Linked DNA regions of Homo sapiens. The protein of the gene in region 1 purifies or fractionates together with the protein of each later gene. This does not show direct contact. Each region holds a gene or a part of one and is shown in the gene's direction. Other genes may lie near its edges. The genes, in order: PAGE1, DCAF10, GNB1L, CBY1, PDCD2L, EPDR1 and CEP120.

What was found.
Region 2: the proteins of PAGE1 (region 1) and DCAF10 purify together in Homo sapiens (co-immunoprecipitation; 2 studies listed by BioGRID and IntAct, with this or other methods). This does not show direct contact.
Region 3: the proteins of PAGE1 (region 1) and GNB1L purify together in Homo sapiens (affinity purification with mass spectrometry; one large-scale study listed by BioGRID and IntAct). This does not show direct contact.
Region 4: the proteins of PAGE1 (region 1) and CBY1 purify together in Homo sapiens (affinity purification with mass spectrometry; one large-scale study listed by BioGRID and IntAct). This does not show direct contact.
Region 5: the proteins of PAGE1 (region 1) and PDCD2L purify together in Homo sapiens (affinity purification with mass spectrometry; one large-scale study listed by BioGRID and IntAct). This does not show direct contact.
Region 6: the proteins of PAGE1 (region 1) and EPDR1 purify together in Homo sapiens (co-immunoprecipitation; one large-scale study listed by IntAct). This does not show direct contact.
Region 7: the proteins of PAGE1 (region 1) and CEP120 purify together in Homo sapiens (affinity purification with mass spectrometry; one large-scale study listed by BioGRID and IntAct). This does not show direct contact.

What each region holds. Positions count from the first base shown.
Region 1 is NC_000023.11:49,689,966-49,692,984, reverse strand, and holds part of PAGE1 (P antigen family member 1), read left to right. Parts: intron 1-1,610; coding exon 1,611-1,736; intron 1,737-3,019.
Region 2 is NC_000009.12:37,842,297-37,845,796, forward strand, and holds part of DCAF10 (DDB1- and CUL4-associated factor 10), read left to right. Parts: intron 1-3,500. UniProt on the Homo sapiens protein: May function as a substrate receptor for CUL4-DDB1 E3 ubiquitin-protein ligase complex.
Region 3 is NC_000022.11:19,785,799-19,788,874, reverse strand, and holds part of GNB1L (guanine nucleotide-binding protein subunit beta-like protein 1), read left to right. Parts: coding exon 1-166; 3' UTR 167-3,076. UniProt on the Homo sapiens protein: Acts as a critical regulator of DNA damage response (DDR) signaling via specifically regulating phosphatidylinositol 3-kinase-related protein kinase (PIKK) family proteins.
Region 4 is NC_000022.11:38,666,638-38,670,137, forward strand, and holds part of CBY1 (protein chibby homolog 1), read left to right. Parts: intron 1-1,379; 5' UTR 1,380-1,417; coding exon 1,418-1,495; intron 1,496-3,500. UniProt on the Homo sapiens protein: Inhibits the Wnt/Wingless pathway by binding to CTNNB1/beta-catenin and inhibiting beta-catenin-mediated transcriptional activation through competition with TCF/LEF transcription factors.
Region 5 is NC_000019.10:34,407,399-34,410,898, forward strand, and holds part of PDCD2L (programmed cell death protein 2-like), read left to right. Parts: intron 1-1,762; coding exon 1,763-2,112; intron 2,113-3,500. UniProt on the Homo sapiens protein: Over-expression suppresses AP1, CREB, NFAT, and NF-kB transcriptional activation, and delays cell cycle progression at S phase.
Region 6 is NC_000007.14:37,948,140-37,951,639, forward strand, and holds part of EPDR1 (mammalian ependymin-related protein 1 isoform 1 precursor), read left to right. Parts: intron 1-700; coding exon 701-909; intron 910-2,060; coding exon 2,061-2,257; 3' UTR 2,258-3,500. UniProt on the Homo sapiens protein: Binds anionic lipids and gangliosides at acidic pH.
Region 7 is NC_000005.10:123,385,404-123,388,903, reverse strand, and holds part of CEP120 (centrosomal protein of 120 kDa), read left to right. Parts: intron 1-297; coding exon 298-472; exon of another isoform or gene 473-600; intron 601-2,236; coding exon 2,237-2,386; intron 2,387-3,500. UniProt on the Homo sapiens protein: Plays a role in the microtubule-dependent coupling of the nucleus and the centrosome.

The sequences.
Region 1 (3,019 bases):
GAATATAAGTATTATACATGTCCTGTGGTTTATCCTTAGATTGTCATTTAGTAGAAAGGTCTCAAACTGGGCTTAGTGCTGTGAAATCATAGTCCCAGCTACTTGGGAGGCTGAGGTGAGAGGATCGCTTGAGCCTAGGGTTCAAGACCAGCCTGGGAAACATAGGGAGACCTCATCGCAAATAAATAAATAAATAAATAATAAATGTTTCGTTATATAGGAAAACAAACATGTAAAGTTTGTTCTTAGCTGCTGGTAATGTTGCAACCATAACTCCTTACTGAACTATAACACTTAAAATTAGTTACCATGGTAAATTTTATGTTATGTGTATTTTTTAACACAATTAAAAAAAAACTTCTGTCTTCCTAAAGTTCAGTGTAGTTGTCATATATTCTTACAAGTTTTTACTTTATATATTTTCAAGACATAACATTTGTAGAAAATTTGCAAGAATAGTACAATGAACTCATATACTTTTCACCTAGATTCACCAATTGTTAATAGCTTCTGCTCCATTGTTTTCATGTCTCTTCCCTCCCTCTCTTACCCTGCTGCCCACACACTCACACACACACTTACGGATATTATGTTTACTCTTATTAATGCTGCATTGTTCAGATAAGGTTTCAGCTATTATGGCCCTTTACCCTAAGTACTTGAAAGTGTTTATATATCCTCAGAACAAAGAAAAAGTCATTCCTTGGATAATCACTGCACAATGATCAAACTCAGGACATTTAACAATGAGAACCTGCAGTCATTTAATACACAGAGTATACTCAGATTTTGCCAGTTATCCAGATAATTTTCTTTTTTCTTTCTTATTTTTTTTTTTCAGACGGAGTCTCACTCTGTTGCCCAGGTTGGAGTGCAGTGGCAAGATCTCGGCTCTCTCTAAACTCTGCCTCCCAGGCTCAAGAGATTCTCATGCCTCAGCCTCCTGAGTAGTTGGGACTACAGGCAATGGCCACCGCACCTGCCTAATTTATTTTTTCTTTTGTATTTTTAGCAGAGCCTGGGTTTCACCATGTTGGCCAGGCTGGTCTCTAACTCCTGACCTCAGATGATCCGCCCACCTCGGTCTCCCAAAGTGCTGGGATTCCAGGTGTGAGCCACCACGCCCGGCTGGCTGATACTGACATTTTTCAAGAGGATAGACCAGTTGGTTTGCGGAACGTTTAGCACTTTGGGCTTTTTTGTGTAGTTTCTAAAGACTGTTTTTTCACTCACCATTTATTGGTGCCTACTCATGCCATATAACTTGCTAGGTGCTAGGAGTCTAAATGCTAATGAGAGACAGGATGTCAGCCTTGAGTCATTTAATATAATAAGGACAATCAGAAATACAATAACAGATAAGTGCAAAGGAGGCAACAAAGTTGTCTGAGGGCAGTCTTCAGAAAGGAAGAGGGTAATATTTGGAAAACCCTGTTTTCCTGTCTTCTGCCAACAGACTCCTGAAATAATGTTCTTGGGATTCTTATCAACACATTTATTATTACAGTACCTAAAGCTTTTATTTAATAAGACCAAGAGCATGAATATTATTTTCTTATTCATATTTCATGTGTTGCTGCTTAAAATGATAATTTTGTTTTATCTTTAAGGGCAGGAGCCTGAAGCTGATAGCCAGGAACTGGTTCAGCCAAAGACTGGGTGTGAGCTTGGAGATGGTCCTGATACCAAGAGGGTGTGCCTGCGAAATGAAGAGCAGATGAAACTGCCCGCAGAAGGTAGGTAGTCCATTAAGCATGCAAATTGTAGGGTGTCTGTTTCCACAGTATTATAATTTTCTTTTTTTTCTGAGATGGAGTCTCACTCTGTCACCCAGGCTGGAGTGCAGTGGCTCAATCTTGGCTCACTGCAACATCCACCTGCTGGGTTTAAGTGATTCTCCTGCCTCAGCCTCCCGAGCAGCTAGGATTACAGGCGTATGCCACCACAGGCACCTAATTTTTGTAATTTTAGTAGAGACGGGGTTTTGTCATGTTGCACAGGCAGGTGTCGAACTCCTGACCTCAGATGATCCACCCAGCTTAGCCTCCCAAAGTCCTGAGGTTACAGCCCTGCCACAGTGCCTGACAAATAAATGTTTCTTTTTTTTTTTTTTTTGTATTTTAGTAGAGACGGGATTTCACCACATTAGCCAGGCTGGTCTTGAACTCCCGACCTCAAGTGATCTGCCCACCTTGGCATCCCAAAATGTTGGCATTAAAGGTGTGAGCCACCATGCCTGGCCCAGATAATTTCCTTTATAGAATTTCTTTTTCTGATCCAGAGTCCAGTTCAAGATCACGTCTTACATGTGCTTGTCATGTGTTTCTAGTTTCCTTTAATCTGGAATGTTTCCTTAATTTTTCTTTGTCATTCAGGATACGGACATTTTTGAAGAGGATAGACAAGTTGGTGTGCAGAATGTTCAGGATTTGGGGATTTTTCATGTATTTTTTAAAGAACTTTTTTCACTCAGCGTTTATTGGTGGCTACTCATGCCATGTAGGAGTCTAAGTGCCAGGAGTGTAAGTGCTGTGAGAGACAGGGTTTCAGTCTTGAGTCATTTAATATGATAAGGACAATCAGAAGTAGAATAATAAAGAAGTGCAAAGGCAGCAACAAAGTTGTCTGAGGGCAGTCTTCGGAAAGGAAGAGGGTAATATTTGGAAAACCCTGTTTTCCTGTTTTCTGCCAACAGACTCCTGAAATCATGTTCTTGGGATTCTTATCAACACATTTATTATTACACTAGTGAAAGCTTTTATTTAATAACACTGAGAGCATGAATATTATTTTCTTGTTCATATTTCATGTTTTACTGCTTAAATTGATTATATATATACACATATATATGTGTATATATACACATATATATGTGTATATATACACATATATACACATATATACACATATATATGTGTGTATATACACATATATACACATATATACACATATATATGTGTGTATATACACACATATATATACACATATATATGTGTGTATATACACACATATATATACA
Region 2 (3,500 bases), on another chromosome or scaffold:
AGGAGACCATGTTAGGATTATGAACAAAAACATTTTTTTTAAAGATGGTGAACAAATTCAGTGTTCTGTCCTAGCCTCAAGAAGGAAACTGGCTTTAGGAAAAGCAACCAAAAAGTGATGATATATTTTGTTAATTGTACCTAGTCATATATTGCAACTAAAAATTTTGGGGAAAATTATACAGGAAGGAGACCAAGTAGTATAGTTAATGATGAAAACTGGCTTATAAAAAAAGAGTTTCCTGAATTTAAGGAAAAATATTTTTGTTATTTCTCCTGTGAAACTAAACTGTTTCTCACTTTTTCTTCCCTCAATTCTACATATATTTATTTTGCAATTTTTGTTCTTTGTTTTCATGCATTAAAAGAGTAGTTCTCATTTGGAATGGTACTGATCTCAAAGGGAATGTTTAGGAATAAAGCGTGGGGCAATTTTGGTTGTCACTATGGGGGAAGAGAACTATCTACTAGCATGTAGTCAGCAAGGACCAGAGTTTCTAAACCTCCTGCAGTACACAGGTCAGTGTGCACAGTGGACTAGTTGTCCCACCTAAAATGCCAGTTATGCCTCTGTTGTGCAACATTCCAACAAAATGTCTCCTTATAAAGAAATTGATATTTAAAGAGTTGAAGTTTGAAAAACAATTAAAATATGCCTGCTTTGCTAGCTATGGTGAAATGATAATATAGTAAACACACCATGATCATTTCTGTGTATATTTGTTTTTGTTGTTGTTTTTGAGACAGGGTCTCGCATTGTCACCCAGGCTGTAGTGCAGTGGTACAGTCACAGCTCACTGCAGACTGGATCTCCCAGGCTTAAGTGATCCTCCTGCCTCAGACTCCTGAGCAGCTAGGACTATAGGCATGAGCCACCATGCCCACCTAATTTTTTATTTTTTGTAGAGACGGGGTCTCGCTATGCTGCCCAGGCTGGTCTTGAACTCCTGGGCTCAAGTGATCCTCCTGCCTTAGCTCCCAAAATACAAGGATTACAGGCATGAGCCACTGTGTGTGGCCATCATTTTCGAAATATTCTTTTTAGAGGTCATATGTAAAAAGAGAGGGGCTATTCTTGGAGATTTCTAGCTACCCATACTCTTTGAGTGGAAGGCAAAAACTATTGGTTATCTTTAGACAAAGACAAGCATACCTACTAAATGAATTTGTTTACTAAAATTTAGAAATAAAATTTGAATAGAAATATAAATGTAACTTCCAAATTAGTAGAGGGTAAAAAACTAATAAAACATGATCAATCCCATAGAAGCAGAGAAGGGAAGGAAAAAAGATAATTATTTAAAAGAACAGGTAAATTAGGAAGCACAAAACTAGTCATATACTGCAACTAAAAAGTTGGAGAAAATTATACAGGAAGGAGACCAAGTTGTATAGTTCATGATGAAAACTAGCTTACAAAATAAATTTCCTTAATTTCAGGAAAAATATTTTTTGTTATTTCACAAAGCATAAAACTAGTAGGCAGATAACCTAAGCTTTAATCCAAATATTAATAACTGTGATAAACGTATATGGGCTAAACTGTCCAGTTAAAAATAGACAGTGTTAGATTAGATTAAAAATAAAACAGAACTGTATTTTCTTTGTAAGGGACACAGTTAAAACATACAAACCTAGAAAAGTTGAAAGTAAAAGGATGAGAAAAAACAAACAATTATACGTCAAAGACAAAACAGTTGTGGCTACATTAATAGCAAACAAAATAAAGTTTAAGACAAAAAGCATTACTGATAAAAAGGTACTATAACAAAAGATTAATTTCACTAAAATATAAAAGCTTGTATGCGCCTAAAAACATAGCATAAAACTATAAAAAGTAAAAGTGGACAGAATTACAAGAAAGAAGTGAGAAATCTCCATCTCAGTGGAAAATATTAACAGCATTCTCTCATTTACTTATCTAGATAAGATAGACAAAAATGGGCCGGGCATGGTGGCTCACGCCTGTAATCCCAGCACTTTGGGAGGCTGAGGTGGGCAGATCACTTGCGGTCAGGAGACCAGCCTGGCCAACATGGTGAAACTCCATCTCTACTAAAAATACAAAAATTAGGCCACGTGTGGTGGCTCACACCTGTAATCCCAGCACTTCGGAAGGCCGAGGTGGGTGGATCACCTGAGGTCAGGAGTTTGAGACCAGCCTGGCCAGCACGCAGAAACCCCATCTCTACTAAAAATACAAAAATTAGCCAGGCGTGGTGGCTGGCACCTGTAATCCCAGCTACTTGGGAGGCTGAGGCAGGAGAATCACTTGAACCCAGGAGGTAGAGGTTGCCGTGAGCCGAGGTTGTGCCACTGTACTCCAGCCTGGGCCACAGAGTCAGACTCTGTCTCAAAACAATAACAACAGCAACAACAAAAATAAATAAAACACAAAAATTAGCAGGGCCTAGTGGCACACGCCTGTAATCCCAGCTACTGAGGCAGGAGAATCGCTTGAACCTGGGAGGCAGAGGTGGCAGTGGGCCAGCCTGGGTGACAGAGTGAGATTCTGTCTCAAAAAAGAAAAATAACAACAACAACAAACAAAAATGGATAAGGCTGTGGAAGATTTAAATATTATTAATAAGCTTGATGTATTACACATATTTAGATTTCTGCTACCAACAACTAGTGAAAACATCCTCTGAAGCAAACTTAGAACCAGTACAAAAATTGAGCATGTACTGAACTACAAAGTAGGTTTCAGCTGGTACCAAAGAACTATTATCACACAAACCATTTTCCCTGTTCTTAGTATCATTTAGTTATTAATTAAAAATTCTCATGTTTAGAGACTTATAAACTCACTTTTAAATAATTTATGGATCAAAGAAGAAATCATACTGAAGACAGGTTGAAAATTGATGAACTAAGCATCTTACTCAAAAAACTGGAAAAAAGTAAAAGGATAAACCCGATGAAAGTAGATGTATGGAAATGATAAGTGTAAAAGCATAAAATTGATGATGTCAAAAATGAAAATATAATAGAGGATTTTTAAAAGCCTGCTCTTTGAAAAAAGCTAATTGAATAGGCAATTCTCTGGCAAGATTCATCAAGAGAAAAAAGACATAAATAACTAATATCAGCAATAAAAAGGAGACAACAATATAGAAGAAGATGATAGATGAGCTTTATCCCTATATACTTGAAAACTTTGATGAAATAGCCAGTTTACTAAAAAAATACACCTTAGCAAAACTGGCCAAGGAAGAAATAGAAAACCTGAAATAGACCTATTACTAGGACTAATATTTAGCCAATATGTACTGGTTCAGCTGAAGTACTGTTAAAAGATTGAACTTCTTCCATACCAATTCGTAAATAGGCACTGCCCTGAGTTACCCTCTGACACCCTCTGACTACCCAGGCCCCTCTTCTAGAGATACCTCCCACAAAACCTTCCCATGATTCAGCAGCAAAAGTCCCCCTTACACAATATGGCGATTCCAGGACCCTGTTCCAGCACAGCCATCTGCATCTATTCTGACTGGCAAG
Region 3 (3,076 bases), on another chromosome or scaffold:
GGACCACCGCATCCGCGTGTTCCACTGGCGGACGATGCAGCCACTGGCCGTGCTGGCCTTCCACAGCGCCGCTGTCCAGTGCGTGGCCTTCACCGCCGATGGCTTGCTGGCCGCGGGCTCCAAGGATCAGCGGATCAGCCTCTGGTCACTCTACCCACGCGCATGACTCACCCACTCCCTTCCCGGGAGACGAGGAGGGCGGGCAGGGAGGTGGGCATCAGGCCCCAGCCTTGGCCTGAAACCTCAAGGGCCTCTGAGGACCAGCAAGTCATGGCCCAAGGACCATGGAGTCCCCGCTGTCTTCATGAGGTTGGTATTTCCTTTTGTGGAGTGCCTCATCACAGGACGGTGACTCTGGGGGCCAGCCAGAGCCCTGGCCGTCCGAGGCCTGCAGGAGACGTTGGCTTGGGCCTGCTGTGTTGCCAGCTGAGGGTATTTTATAATAAATTTCCATTGCCAAGTTGCAGGCTTGAGGTGGGAGCTCCCTGAGGAGGCCCTGGTCCCCCACTTAGCATCAGTGCCCTCAGACCCCCACCAGGCAGGATGCTCAGCCCCACCCTCACACCTGCTGTTGAATGGGCCACCCCGAGTGTGGGTTTCCTGGGCCAGGCCTCAGGAGATGATAGGCCCCAACCATAGCTGCGTCGATGTCCACATGACCCCTCACCCCGAGGAGGCCAGGAGCTCCCAACACACAGGTTGAGGCCAGGATCAGGATCAGGAAGTAACTGAACTCCCTAAAGAGTGAAGCAGAGAAAGGTGCCTGTGAGGGACGGCAAGGGGGGCTTGCAGCGCACAGGGCCAGGCCAGATGTGGGATCCGGGAGGGCACGCCTGCCCGCAGAGGGTGCAGTGGGGAAGGCGCACAGGGTGCACCTCCAGGTGAGTGCTGGGCAGAAGGCACGAGAGCAGCAAGGGAGTGTGACAAGCACCGCCTCACAGTGGCCAAGGCCACAGTCACAGCTGCGGCTGCACACAGGGTGGCCCCCAGGGCACAACACAGCAAGAGCAGGACTTAGCAGCCAGAGCCTCACACTGCATGCAGCCGGGCCCAGCCTGGCCGGTCGTCTCCTCCTAAAAGCGGGTGTTGATTGGGAAAGAACCATGACCCTGAATATTGGAGTGGGGCCCATGGGCAGATCCAGAGAAGCTGGGACCACACACGCCTGTGTCTGCCCGGATTGCCGGAAGAGCCCCTCTAGCTGAAGGCCCGGGGTGGCCTCCCTTGAGGCAGTTGCCCTGCAAGGCCCTGCCGATGCTCCTTGGGACCCCCACCTGGGCTTCTAGTCCTAGAACTAGACTCGAGTCCAGCAGACCCCCAGGATGAGATACAGAGGGTGACCCTGAGAGTGGCACCAGCCTCCTGCAGGACCACATGGCATTTCCAGGTTTCCAGGCAGAAATCTGAACATGTGTGGGACGGATCGGAAGGGTGTGGGATCCAGGTGGCCGGAGCAGGGGTGGATCAGGGGAGTTCCCGGAACAGACCTGCCAAACGGAGGGCTGGACTGGGCGCTGCAGCTTGGGGCCAGGAAGGCTCCAGTGCCGGGCTGGGGGTGGGGGCTGGATTACAGCCTGAGGGTGGCTGCACTGAGTGAAGTGGACATGGCCAGCCGCCGTGGGGTACAGCCGAGGAGGGCTTCCAAGGCCTGGGGATGGGGGTGTTGGATTTGTCAGTGAGACCTGTGCACCCACTGCAGGGGGTCCCAAGGCCGTGCCTCCCCAACCCCACTGTGAGGAACATGGTTGCTGGGGGGCCCGGAGTCCTTGAGGAGTCCTGTGACCACACTTCTCTGTTGGTCAGAGGTACCATGGGGACCGTTCCATCAAACGGGAATGTCAGTGCTGGCCGGGAAAGCGGCCCCTGGCCCAAGCTTGGAGACCACCTGGCTCGGGTACTGGCCTGGCTCCGTTGGACAAGGGTGGCCACCAGGTGCCCAGGACCTTTGGAGAGGGGGGCCCTGCTGCTTTTCCTCGAGTGTCCTATAGCCGCCAGGATGCGTAGGGCACTCCGGGAGGTATTTTCATATCACTGAGGTGTCAGGGAGGGGAAGGGTCCTGGGTTTAGGCTGCAGTGACTGCAGGTGCTGAGGGAGCTGTGCCCTGGGTGCTCATCACAGGCTGTCACAGTGAGGGAAGGTGTCAGGTTCTGACATCCCCATGACAGCGGCAGGGTAGGTGGAGTGGGAATTGGCTTTGCAGTTTCCCTGCATGCCCTTGACAGCCTTGCCAAAGGCACATCTGCCCCGCCTCAGCTCCCACCCTGAGGGTTCTGGGCCTCTACCCCTTCCCCTGTTTATGTCCCTGTCATCTTTGGCATCATCACTGTAGTTACAAAACTCCCTACGTCCCACAGCCACGAGGTGGGTATCCCACATGAGGGCCCAGGTGTGCATGCCAGCATGAGGTTGGCGAGTGGCACTGCCTGCTGATGTCTTACATAGAGGCCATGAAGAGCTGTGGGCAGGGTGTACAGACCCTGAGTTGGCCCCTGGCCCTCGTGCTTTCAGTCAAAGGCACAAGCAGGGTGGATGGCAGGCGGCTGCCCCCTAGCCTGGCCTTGAGCTCCCTGCCCCAGGCCATGTGGCGTTGAGCAGTGTCCAGGCACATCTTGTTCTGAATCTCAGTGTGCAGGGATGGAGTCGGGACAGCGTGAGTCCTGCATGCCTAACACAGCCCTCACCCCTCCAGTGCACAACGGGGCCACGTGCCCGCATCTGGGTGGCTAGGCAGATAGGGCCCCCCTTGCCAGGCAGATCCAGCTTCTGAGGCCTTATAGACGTCCTGTGGAGGGCAGGCCCAGGACTTTCATTCACCTGGCTGAGCTGCCTGGGAGAGCAGCAGAACCGGTGCTGGGGTCCAAGCCGGCCAAGAGCAGTGCAGCCCTCCTGGTCCTGTTCCTCTCTTGAGCTGCTCCGTGGTGTCCACAGCAGAGCCATGTGGCTCTGGACAGGTCGGCCTTTGTGTCAACAGAACCTGGGTCGTGATGAATCACCATGCGTCTGACCAGCCTTGAAACCCCCACAACAGAAGAAGAAACGGTCTCAGCTCCAGACATCCAGCTTGGAAAAGATGCA
Region 4 (3,500 bases), on another chromosome or scaffold:
GTGAGGAGCACTGTTATCAATCTGGAAAGGAAATATAAGCATAGCTTTACTCATTTATTTATTTATTTTTTTAATTTATTTTTGAGACAGAGTCTTGCTCTGTCACCCAGGCTGGAGTGCAGTGGCGCAATCTCGGCTCACTGCAACCTCTGCCTCCTGGGTTCAAGCAATTTTCCTGCCTCAGCCTCCCAACTAGCTGGGATTACAGGCACCCGCCACTATGCCCAGCTAATTTTTTGTATTTTTAGTAGAGACAGGGTTTCACCACGTTGGCCAGGCTGGTCTCAAACTCCTGACCTCTTGATTTGCCCGCCTCGGCCTCCCAAAGTGCTGGGATTACAGATATGAGCCACCGTGCCCAGCCATTTCTTTCTTTATTTTTTTTTTTTTAGAGACAGGGTAATGCTCTTTGACTCAGGCTGGAGTGCAGTGGCATGATCATAGCTCACTGGAGGCTCAGACTCATAGGTTCAAGTGATCCTCCCACCTAAGCCTACTGAATAGCTGAGACTACAGGCACGCACCACCATACCTGGCTAATTTTTGTATTTTTTGTAGAGACAGAGTTTTGCCATGTTGGCCAGGCTGGTCTTAAACTCCTGGGCTCAAGTGATCTGCCTACCTCAGCCTCCTGAGTCACTGAGACTGTAGTTGTGTGCCACCATGCCAGGCTAACTTTTTTTTTTTGAGACATGGTCTCTCATTCTGTAGCCTAGACTGGAGAGCAGCAGTGGACCACAGCTCACTGCAGCCTCAACCTCCCTGGGCTCCAGCGACCCCCCAGCCTCAGCTTCCCAAGTAATTGGGACTACAGGCATGCGCCACTGTGTGCCACCCAAAAAATCTTAGCATACCGCGTAGCACAAAGGGAGCGTTCAGCACATGGGAGCTATTACCAGGCGTCTTAATCCATTTTGTGCTGCTGTTACAGATTACCACAGACTGGGTAATTTATAAAGAAAAGAAGTTTATTTGGCTCACAGTTCTGGAGACTGGGAAGTCCAAGAGCATGGTGCAAGTATCTGGTGAGGGTCATCCTGTGTGAGGCAGAAGGCTCACATGGTGAGCAAGTGCATGAGACAGACAGCATGGCAGCAGAACTCATCCTTTTGCCAGGAGCCCACGCCAGAGAAAACTAACCTACTCCATGACAATGGCATTAATCCATTCATGAGAGCAGAGCTCACATGGCCCAGTCACCCCTTATACTGTTAAACAATGGCAATTCAATTTCAACATGAGTTTTGGTGGGGACATTCAAACCATAGCACCAGGATCGTTAGTAGCCACATGATAAAATGTATGTCTTCAAGATTTGAAGACAATGGCATAAGGTCAGTGATCCAGCTGCTTGTACCCCTGACTTTTTCTGACCCTAGGAGAAGGGAGCACTGGCTTTGCTTTCATCAGGCCAAAGATGCCTTTCTTTGGGAATACGTTCAGTCCGAAGAAGACACCTCCTCGGAAGTCGGCATCTCTCTCCAACCTGCATTCTGTGAGTGTCGGTACTGGGGTCGGCCGGGTGTGCAGCATGAGTTGAGTGCTGAGCGTGTCTCTGAATGGAAAGTGTGGTCCTCCAGAGGCATCAGTGCAGGAGGGCATCCTTTCCGTCCATATCATTGCTATTGCGGAAAACATTTTTGAACTCTTGTTTGGGAATGATCGTCAGAGCTTGTTTATCCAAGAACCTAAGAAGACAATCTCATTATGATATTTGACCCCAAATATCCAAATTTTTTTTTTCTTTTTTGAGATGGAGTCTCACTCCCGTCCCACAGGCTAGGGTGCAGTGGCGCGATCTTGACTCACTGCAACCTCCACCTCCCGGGTTCAAGCGATTCTCCTTCCTCAGCCTCCTGAGTAGCTGGGATTACAACTGCCCGCCACCATGCCCGGCTAATTTTTGTACTTTTAGTAGAGACAGGGTTTCACCATGTTGGCCAGGCTGGTCTCGAACTGCTGATCTCAGGTGATCCACCCGCCTTGGCCTCCCCAAGTGCTAGGATTACAGGTGTGAGCCACTGTGCCCAGCCAGTATCATCCAATTTGACTTCTACTTTATTCTGTGACCTTTTCCTACAGAGCTAGCTATGCAGACTGGCCATGTCTTCACAGAAGGCGAGTGGGGTTGAACAACAAGGCTGTGGGGGCTGAGCATTCACTACAGGTTTCAGGTCTTAAGAGTCTGTTGTCTCCTGTTCCCAGTGAAAATCATGGTGGGGGCAGCCCCACTGTGGCCAGAGCTGGGCATTCTGTGGAGCAGGCCAGGCAGAGGCTTAGGATCTCAGTTTCTGGTGCCCCTAGGCCTGAGGCTCCCTTTCCTCTCTGCCATGTGTGAGAGATGCAGATACACCTGGCGGTCCCTCTAGGACATCCTCTGTCCTAATCCCACACAGCGTAAGAGCAGCAGTGTGCTTACATGACGTCTGTCTCTGACCGTGACTTGAAGTCGGTCCTCCCCTACATTGTTTTCCACATGCTGACAGGTACTTGTAAGCCTTGGTACTTGTAAGGCCTCCACAGCGCTCCATATGGTCACTGGTGGATTTTATTAGTTCCCCGTTATTACAGGATAACCACCCAGATCTTGGGAGCAGCACAAATGACCCTTGGTGGCCTCACTCCAGCTCTCCTTCCTGCCCTTGCCCTCTGCACACCCTGTGCTGCAGCCGCCCAAGCCCCGTGTGAACCTCCTCTGCGCACGCTACTCCTTCTGCCTAGAATGTTTAATTCTAGAATCTAGAATAGATTAATTAAAGAGCTATTGATTGATACCTTTCTATGTGCCAGGCACTCTCCTAAGCACTGGGCATGCAGAAGTGGATGAAGGAGGGGAGAGAAAAACATCAAATCCCTGCTTTCATGGGGCAGATACTTTAACGGAAGGCTACAGAAAATAAGCAAATTTATATCAGATGGTGATATGTGCCAGACAGCAAAACAAAGCATAGGCCTGGGATGGGGTGTGGCTGAGCACTGGGGACTGAGCTTTCATTTTCAACAGGGTGGTCAGGAAGGCCTAACTGAGAAAGGGACATTTGAGCACTTACCTGAAGGTCTCCCTGTGTTGAGCCGCTATTGAGGGCAGAGCTGGTCATACGCATCCCTGGATACCCAGTACCGAGTCCCGAATCGGGGTGGGTGCTCAGTGAGTTGTAGAAATGAATATCTAGGCCAGGCGCAGTGGCTCATGCCTGTAATCCCAGCACTTTAGGAGGCTGAGGTGGGCGCATCACTTGAGGTCAGGAGTTTGAGACCAGCCTGGCCAATGTGGCGAAACTCTGACTCTACTTTAAAAAATACAAAAATTAGGCCGGGCACGGTGGCTCACGTCTATAATCCCAGCACTTTGGGAGGCTGAGGTGGGCGGATCACAAGGTCAGGAGTTCGAGACCAGCCTGGCCAATATGGTGAAACCCTGTCTCTACTAAAAAATACAAAAATTAGCCAGGTGTGGTGGCGTGCGCCTGTAGTCCCAGCTACTCGGGAAGCTGAGGCAG
Region 5 (3,500 bases), on another chromosome or scaffold:
GAGGTGCTGGGATTACAGGCGTGAGCCACCACACCTGGCCACTCCAGATTTCTTTAACCACCACTCTACTCTCTACTTCTTTGAGGTTGTTTTAGATTCCACATATAAGTGAATACATGCAGCATTTGTCTTTGTGTCTGGCTTATTTCCCTTAGCAAAATGTTCTCCAGTTCCATCCATGTTGTCACAAATGACAGAATTTCCTTTTTTTTTTTAAGGGTGAAAAATATTCCATTGTATATATAGTAGTTTTTTTAAACTTACACTGAAGGTCTTGAGACACACAGTTTACTGATTTTCCTGTTTGGGAATATATATGGGTGTGTACATATATGTGGTTGTATGTGATAATGTATACGTGTCTTTATAGTAAATATACTTTATGAGAGCTATATATGTATTAACACATTTCATAAGATGAAATCTGAATTTATTGAAAAGGCAGGCAAGTTGGTAGCTGCAGAACACAATTTAGCCTCCCTTTGACTGTAAATGTGTCTTTATATATACACTGAGTTTGTTTGTTTGTTTGTTTGTTTTTTGAGATGGGGTTGCATTCTGGTCACCCAGGCTGGAGTGCAGTGGCATGATCTCTGCCTCTTGGGCCCAAGCCATTCTCCCACGTCAGCCTCCTGAGTAGATGGGATTACAGGCACGTGCCACCATGCCCAGCTGATTTTCATATTTTTTGTATAGATGGGATTTTGTCATGTTGCCCAGGCTGTTCTTGAACTCCTGGACTCAAACAGTCCGCCCACCTCAACCTCCCAAAATGCTGGGATTACAGGCGTGAGACACTGGGCCCGGCCTGCACCCAGTTCTTGATGTTTGCTAGGCATAGTATTAGCAGTACTTAAATAAAAAGTTGAAGACAGTGGTGTTTGCCTATATTTGTCAGGGTTCAGGTGCAGATAATTAGAAAAGTGCTGTTGCTTTTTCTTTTTTTTTTTGAGACCGAGTGTCGCTCTGTCACCCAGGCTGGAGTGCAGTGGTGTGATCTTGGCTCACTGCAACCTCCGCCTCCCGGGTTCAAGCGATTCTCCTGCCTCAGCCTCCTGAGTAGCTGGATTACGGGCACGTGCCACCATGCCTGGCTTTTAAGCTGAGACAGACTTAACACAGGAGTGAGGTTTTTAGTAAGTGGATAGGCTGAAGGAGGAGGCTCCAGGAATGCCCTCCAGAATCACACCTCAGAACTGGCCGTGAAGGAGCTGCTATGCCACCTCTCCTGCTGTCAGGAAGCTTAGGTGTGATCTGGTGAACTAGAGGCTGTCTTTGCCACCGAACCGTTGGCTCCAAAGCCTTGTTCTGTCTGTGTCTACACAATGGCTACCTTTTGCTATGTGGTCTTTCTTTCTACTTCACTCTGTCTCAAGTTCATGTTTCTCTCTAGTAGACCTGATTAGCAGACCCCTAATCATATCTGAAACCCTAGCTGCTAAGGGGTCTGGGAAAGGTAGTTCTTTCTTTTCAGTTCCTGCAATACATGAAGCACAACAGAAAGATATTGGAACGGATGGTTGAATAACCCCTGTACTATATCTGTCACACTCACCCCAAAAAGGAAAGACAAGTATTTTAAGTCACCTCCAACGTGCTTTTGAGTACATAGGGTCTAGAAAGTTTGATTGGAGTGTACCAGAGGGGAAGGGGATGGTGTGAAGGCTCCCTCTGGAAGGCGCGGCGGTGGGTGGCTGGAGCCGAAGGATTAGAATAAACCTCCCAAATGTGCTCGGACCTCATTCACTGAGTATTTTTCCAGAAACAGGGAAACAGCCTTGCAGCTGAGGACTGGTGTGAAGGTGCTGATGACTGGGGAAGTGATACTGAGGAGGGGCCTTCACCACAGTTTACCTTGGATTTTGGGAATGATGCCAGCAGTGCCAAAGACGTAGACTGGACTGCTCGGCTCCAAGACCTCCGCCTGCAGGATGCTGTCCTGGGTGCTGCCCATCCTGTGCCTCCTGGGCTGCCGCTCTTCCTGCCCTACTACATCTGTGTTGCAGATGAGGATGATTACAGGGACTTTGTCAACCTGGATCATGCCCACAGCCTTCTGAGGGACTATCAGCAGAGAGAAGGCATTGCCATGGATCAGTTGCTTTCCCAAAGGTGAGGATGTGTGCTGCTGAGGTTGAGAGGTGACTGGATTGGGAAGCAGCCACAAGAGTTACCCTTCAGTTTCACCACAGGACCTGGGGAAACTTTCAGGCAGAACTTGTATGTAGGACCTTTTTGCTTCACTTCCTTATCAGCCAACTTGAGTTAGCTTGAAAACCCTGCTCTATTTATAATTGCCGTTAAGAAAGTGAAGATGAACAAACAGAAGTTAGAGATGGCAAGTATTTATAGAAGACGCGTTCACTGACTCTTAAATTTTCTTTTATATTTCTAATATGTCTTTATAGCAGAGACAGGCAAGTTAGAAAACTACCATTTGATCTGGGATAATAAGATTGGGGTGAAAAAATGGAAAAAGGAAAAGAAAAACGCCATTTGTTTATTGACTCTTGGCTGTGGCTCCAGAACTGGCCCAGGACCTCAGAGATGCTTTCAGATCCTCAATTCTGTAAAATGAGAGTGATGGTGATATCTCTGTTCTCTGTTTCATCCCATGATTTTTTGAGAGTTAAGCGAGAGGGTAGATCTTGAAAGGCTTTATAAACCAAAGCTCTCTAAAGAGGTAAGAATGATCATTTTTGCTTATTGATTGACTGAGAGAGACAGGGTCTCACTCTGTCACCCACGCTGGAGTGAATTGGTGTGATCAAAGCTCATGCAGCCTTGAACTCCTGGGCTCAGGCAATCTATCTTAGTTTCCCAAGTAGCTGGGAGTACAGGTGCACACCACCATGTCTGACCAATTAAAATTTTTTGAGTTTCGCTGTTGTTACCCAGGCTGGAGTGCAATGGCACGATCTCGGCTCACTGCAACCTCCACCTCTCAGGTTTAAGCAGTTCTCCTACCTCAGCCTCCCAAGTAGCTGGGATTATAGCCATGTGCCACCATGCCCAGCTAATTTTTGTATTTTTAGTAGAGATGGGGTTTCACTATGTTGGTCAGGCTGGTCTCGAACTCCTGACCTCAGGTGATCCACCCACCTCAGCCTCCCAAAGTGCTGGGATTACAGGCGTGAGCCATTGTGCCTGGCCTAAAAATTTGTTTTAGCCACTGCACCCAGCATTTTTTACTATTAGAATAAAAAAATTACAATAGAATATTTGGAGAAATGGCCTGGTTCTTTACCAGAACTGTTTCATTTGTAGGCTTTTTCAGAATAATGATGAAGGGGAATGCATGAAGACATGTTGGTGTTTGAAAATAATCCTTAATAGAATTGATGGTTATAAGGACTTTTTATTTTTTATTTATTTATTTATTTATTTATTTATTTATTTTTGTGTGTGTGTGATATGGGCTCTCTTGCCAGGCTGGAGTGCAGTGGTGCGATCTCGGCTCACTGCAACCTCCCCTTCCTGGGTTCAAGCAATTTTCTTGC
Region 6 (3,500 bases), on another chromosome or scaffold:
AATTCCTTGACTGAGTGCTGTGAGAGAAAATGCACCACACAAGAGTCAAGTCCTCCTGTGTCTCTGTGGGTAAACAAAAGTTCACAAACCAGCTCTTCAGCCGGAGCCATATCTTCCCCATGTTTGTATGCTAAGCACAGGGTCTGGCATATACTAGGTCCTTGGTCAAAATTTGCCCAGTGAATATACACTTTTGACCTCAATTTTTTTTTTTTTTTTTTGATGGTGGACGGGATCTCACCCAGGCTGTATGTAGTGCGGTGGCATGATCATGGCTCACTGAAGCTTTGAACTCCCAGGCTCAAGTGATCCTCTTACTTCAACCTCCCAAGTAGCTGGGACTACAGCTGTGCACTGCCATGTCTGGCTAATTTTTAAAATTTTTTTTCTAGAGACAGGGGTCTCACTATGTTGCCCAGGCCGGTCTCAAACTCCTGGGCTCAAAACGTACTCCATCCTCGGCCTCCCAAAGTGCTGGGATTACAGGGATGAGCCATCATGCTCGGTCTGACCTGTGAATTCTAATTATTTCATATGCAGGTTGTTTCATGTGCCTAGTGTTTATAAACGTTAAGTGATTGCCTAGCTAGTAATTTCTTTCTATTTTAAAAGTAATATCTATCAAAGGTGTTTGTGCTGTTAAAAGGCACGAGGATGGTAACATGAAGTCCCAAACTACTTCTTTCCATCTGTGTTTCAGATTATTTGAATATATTTTGCTGTATAAGGATGGAGTGATGTTTCAGATTGACCAAGCCACCAAGCAGTGCTCAAAGATGACCCTGACACAGCCCTGGGATCCTCTTGACATTCCTCAAAACTCCACCTTTGAAGACCAGTACTCCATCGGGGGGCCTCAGGAGCAGATCACCGTCCAGGAGTGGTCGGACAGAAAGTCAGCTAGATCCTGTAAGGGTTCAAAGAATCTAAGCATTGTATTCAGCATGCATGATGGGGAAAAAGGTTTAAGTCCTTTAAGGAAGGTAGTTTTTAGGGAAACATCCGCTTAATCAAAAATTTTTTAAAGCCTCCACTTAGGTCTGCAGGTTACTTTGCTCACTATGTGGCAACGGGATCTAAGCTTCATATTTGAAACACCTCAGCCTTCTAGTGCCACCTGCACCTCTCTGCCACTTTGGCTCCTGTGAACTTAGCCTTGATTTTGACATTTTATGGTCGTCCCGAGGTCTGTGACATGGAAGGCATCTGTCTAAGGCACACATTTGAATTGGGTGCCTCCTTTTCTTTCCCCCACTTCCTAAAGTTGCAGGGGTCAAATCTACTCCCATCATGCTGAGTGTGCAAACCAGCCTACTTTTATGTGAAGCCATTCTCTGCCCTGCTGCTGATATACGCCTATCCCAAGACAGTTTTTACCACACAGGCATTCATGCTGTGGAACACAGTATGGTGATTTCTCAAAAAATTAAAGATAAGACTGCCATATGACCCAGCAACTCCACTTCTGTATATATATATATGCCCCAAAGAATTGAACGCAGAGACTCAAACAGATATTTGTACACCCATGTCCACAGCAGCATTATTCACAATTGCCAAAAGGTGGAAACCCAAATGTTCATCAACAGATAAATGGATAAACAAAATCTGGTATAGTCATACAACAGAATATTATTCAGCCTTAAAAAGGAAGGAAACACCAGCACATGCTACAGCCTGAGTAAACCTTGAGGACATAATGTTAAGAGAAACAATGCAGGCAGAAAATGACAAATACAGTACAATCCCACTTACATGAGGTATGTAGAGTCGTCAAATTCATAGAGACAGAAAATCGAATGATGAGTTCCAGGAGCTGGGAGAGGAGGAATGGGAAGTTCGTGTTTAATGGAGACAGAGTTTCAGTTTGGGAAGATGAAAAAAGTTCTGGAGATGGATGGTGCTGATGGTCAACAAATGTGAATGTACTCAAGGCCACCAAACACTTAAAAATGGTAAAATGGTAAATTTTATGTTATGTACATTTTACCACCATAAGAAAAAATATGAACTTCTTGCCTGTCTTCTTTATTTAAAAGTCAACTTTTTTCCTCTTATAGATGAAACCTGGATTGGCATCTATACAGTCAAGGATTGCTATCCTGTCCAGGAAACCTTTACCATAAACTACAGTGTGATATTGTCTACGCGGTTTTTTGACATCCAGCTGGGTATTAAAGACCCCTCGGTGTTTACCCCTCCAAGCACGTGCCAGATGGCCCAACTGGAGAAGATGAGCGAAGACTGCTCCTGGTGAGCCTGTGCATAGGGAAGCGGCAGCATCGGATGTCAGCCCCCTGCGGCCCCAGCTGGAGATGGATATGAGACTAGTCAAGATGTGAATGCTAATTGGAGAGAAATATAATTTTAGGAAGATGCACATTGATGTGGGGTTTTGATGTGTCTGATTTTGACTACTCAAGCTCTGTTTACAGAAGAAAATTGAATGGCGAGGGTGTGGCCATATGAACTGACTAGATGGCTAATATGGACACTTTGGGTATTTCTAATGCCTGTTCAGGGCTGGTTTTCTGCATGCACGGGTATACACATAATGCAGTGCCATGCACATAGGGAAGGGTCAGTAAGAGAAGTTTGCCTTGGCAGCAAGTATTTATTGTTGACATTATTCAGAATTAGTGATAATAAAAAGCAGAGTGATTTTGGTCAATTTTATTATTAATTCTTAAATTCCCTGCAGAGAATGCCCCCTTTATTGCTGCACCAGGGTTGGCATTGCTCCCACTGAGCCCTACTCCACCCTGTCCCTGCACTCCCTTGGTTGCCAAAAAAATGATAACTTAAATCCCTTCCAGACTTAAGAATTTTATGGCATGGCCCAATTGATATAAACATTTAGAAGGAAATGAAAAGCTAAAATAGGAAGTAATTATTCCTCTAAAGAAACATTTTGAGCAAGGCAGTTTAGAGAATCCTAATGTCTACACTGGCATAGCACGAGCCATGTAAGCTTCTTTTTTTTCTATGCAAGAGTATTGATGTATGTGCTGAATCTTCACAGACTTGTCAATACACAGGCAGTATTCTAAAATAGCACTGAACAGGGAGTCAGGAGACTATTGTCTCCTAAACCCAGGACTAGAGTTCCCTCGTACTGTCACTCCTTTGGTCATTAAATGCACTGGGCTTGCCCGCACTTTGGCCTTCCTAGAACACTGCTTCATAACCTCTCTGTCTGACTTCTGCATCTCCTTCCAGGTCAGCTCATTCACAAGAGTTGCTCCCAAGCCTGGATGAGTTGCACCTTGCATCTTGAGCATGCATTTCTCACAATAATTATTAAGCTGTGTGATAATTTCTGCTTTCAGGACACTCATCCATTATCTTGGCTGTGAGCTCCTTGGGTACGGGTACCTTGTATGTTTACTTTTATATCCCTAGCACAAAGCAAGTGCCTGGCACATAGTCAGTGCCCTAAGTATTCGTAGAGTGAAGAATGCCAGCCTCTCTTGTCCCTGGTTTCCTTATGTGTTGAATGT
Region 7 (3,500 bases), on another chromosome or scaffold:
TAAGTTAGTGCCTTCTAGGCTGCAGTCATGTATATTTCTCTATTGGTTCTGTACGTTTTCTATATGTATTGAGAGTAAGCTCTTTTTTCACACAATTCTAGAATGGAAATTAAAACCTGGGTTATTTTTGTGTGAGTTACTTTTAAGATACTTATACCTCAATTCATATGTTCATGAGACAAAATAGCCCAATTCCTGCTTAAAGGTAAATGAGATGATAGCCTTAAACTATCTGTACAATTTAAGAGAAACTGTTAGCAAGTGTGATTATTTTGTTTTATTTTATGTTCATTTCAGCCAGTTCTTCTGTACCTGCTTCACTGGCCCAGCTAGTGACTACATCCAATGCTTCAGAAGTAGCTTCAGGACAGAAGATTGCTGTACCAGCAACATCACATCATTTTTGCTTTTCAATAGACTTAAGGAGTATACATGCCTTGGAGATTGGTTTTCCAATCAACTGTATATTAAGGTGTGATTTGATTTTGTTTCAAAGTATTATTTTCTGAAGAGAAAGGACTTTCCTGTGTTTGGGGAATTGCAGAGAGAAATGTCACCAAAGAAGTTATAACATTTGTTAAATCAGTGGACTAAAAGGGGGTAAGGCTATATCCTAATGATTTTGAATTCAAACAAGGGTAGCATAGTAGTAGGAGAGGTAACTGTCTTATTATTCTGATATAATAATTGTAGGCATTTATAATAACTTATTCTAAGTAATATAATACATGTATGTATTTTGATAAACATACATAATATGCCATATAAAGTACAGTGCCTCTTAAACTTGAAAAGTGCTTTTTTTCTGGAAAAAGTATTACTGGTCAAAATAATAATAATGGTCAAAAAAAAGTAATAATAATACTAGTCAAAGTATTACTGGTCAAAAAGGTAGTGTATTATCTGATTTTTCTATAAAACTGTATTATAATGGGAGCTCATATTCCTAATACCTCCATTTCATAGCTATGAATCTAAACACCATACTTAATCAGCTGTAAGTGGAATGTGTCTACATTGTTCTATATTAAGAATTTTATATAATATATATGTCAGTTAAGTAGTTTTACACAATAATTTGTTTTTAATGATGTTACATTTTTATAGTCTTTTGTGCCCGAGATATAAATTAAATATAATACAATAATGTATTTAGTTTGGGGTAGTTAGCATCTCCTCATAAATTTTTTGGGAACAAGCATTAGCATTTGCAAAAGTTGAGGAAATAAATTGTTACAGTCCACTTAACACTCTTCATAGAATTCATTTGATACGGACTAATAGTTCGGTCTTTGAATCATTTTAAGGCACTTTAAAAATGCTGGCCACTTAACTTTTTCTGTTGATAAATTTTCATACCATGCTCTGTATTGGTATGAAATTGTAGTTTGCAGCTGTGTCATGGAATTGGTTAGGTAACACTGGTATTTGAAAAGTTTCTTATCTGCATGACTTCCTTTATTTATTTTTCTTTTAATCACTAAATCCTGTAGTGTGGTGGTAAGCATAGGGAGCTGAAACTCTAGGGCATTTAACTTTCCTCGGAAATGACATGATTTAAATGGATATATAATTATATAGGAATTGGGTGACTACATAGAATTCTTCTTGTTGGAAAGCAGTTTTTACTAATAGTGTTTAAATTTTAGTTCTCATATATGAATAACAAGATACAGGATTAAATTTAAATGAACATTATAATATCTTTATATTTGGCTTTAAATACAAATTAAGTTCAGCAGTAGTCAGGCATTCTTCCATTTAATCTAGCATGGCTTTGTGATGAAAGGGAGAAACAGTGTTGTTATGTCACTCTCTTGATTCATCCATAATACATTCGAATTGTTTGCATCCTTGCAAGATTACCATAATTACCAGATTACCATGAATGCATCCTTTTGGAGTTGACTAAGGGCTTTTTATCCCATAAAAAATCAGGATACTATTGTATAAAATAAACCAGGTTTACAAATAAATTTAGGAAGCATTTCTTGAATATTTATATATGGCAGAAACTGCCTGTGTCCCTGGGAGTGCAGAGATAAAAAAGGTAGGACATGTGCCGTCAAGGAACTTCTTACACAGATGACAGATTGCTATGTCTACCATGTTTCTATTAAAAAGTTGTATTTGCTCATAATATTCATATTATACTTTTTTCTAAAAAACAGACTGAATGTCATCTGTAAACCATATCATTAAGGCTTTTTTTTTTTTTTTTTTTTTTAAATTCTAGGTACTCATATCCATTCTTTGGAAGTGCAGCTCCTATTATGACTAATCCTCCTGTAGAAGTTCGGAAAAACATGGAAGTTTTTCTTCCCCAGTCTTACTGTGCATTTGATTTTGCAACTATGCCTCATCAGCTGCAAGACACCTTCTTAAGGTAATGCATACAGTGTATGTATGATATTAATTAATTTAAGTCAATTCTTGAAAATTTGTATTTTATTAAAAAGGAATTCTTATAGGTTTAAATCCATAGCAGTTTATGCATTTGAGGATCAAGAAACAAATTTACTAATTATGTGTATGACATTTGTGCATCTGCTACAGGGTTTTGCATGGTTTATTATAAAGGCTCTTTTTTGATTTTCCTATCTTATTTACCTGAATTTAGATATTTTAACTTTGTTAAAACAAACTATATGTAATGAGGGGCCTTTGAAAAGTGGTCTTGCCTTTTCCTGATATAATGTGGGAAGATAAAAAGCTAAGAACTAAATATTTACTTTTTATTGTTGATTCACTGAATGAAAAAATTTGCTTTTTCTGTTTTTTTAAACCTATAACTAGAGATGTTAATCTGACTATCTGAAATGGATTCATGAAAAAATCTGAGATCTGCGAAACACCTTTTACTTTCTCAGAGTATCACAATTCAAATTTATACATTATTTTAAAAAGAATGAAGGGTAACTTAAATCTAACCATTTGTGGGAATTACAGCATTTGAAGGTTTTTATTGCATAGAAAGTGGTACAAAAAATATAATAGTAGGCCTGGCATGGTGACTTACACCTGTAATCCCAGCACTTTGGGAGGCCAACTTGAGCAGATTGCTTTGAGCCCAGGAGTTTTAGACTAGCCTGAGCAAAATGGTGAAACCCTGTCTCTACAAAAAATACAAAAATTAGCCAGCACCTGCAGTCCCAGCTACTTAGGGGGCTAAAACGGGAGGATCACTTGAGCCCAGGAGGTTGAGGCTGTAGTGAGTTGTGATTATGCCATTGCACAGCAGCCTGAGTGGCAGACCAAGACCCTGTCTCAAAAAAAAAAAAAAACAGGTATAGTCGTGAATTAAAGATAGGGATACATTATGAGAAGTGCATTATTAGATAATTCTATTGTTGTGTGAACATTGTAGAATGTACTTAAACAAACTTAGATGGTATAGCCTACTGTGCACCTAAGCTGGGTGGAATAGCCTATTGCTTCTAGACTGCGAACCTGCACAGCATGTGACTGTACTGAATACTGTAGGCAGTTGGACAAAGGTA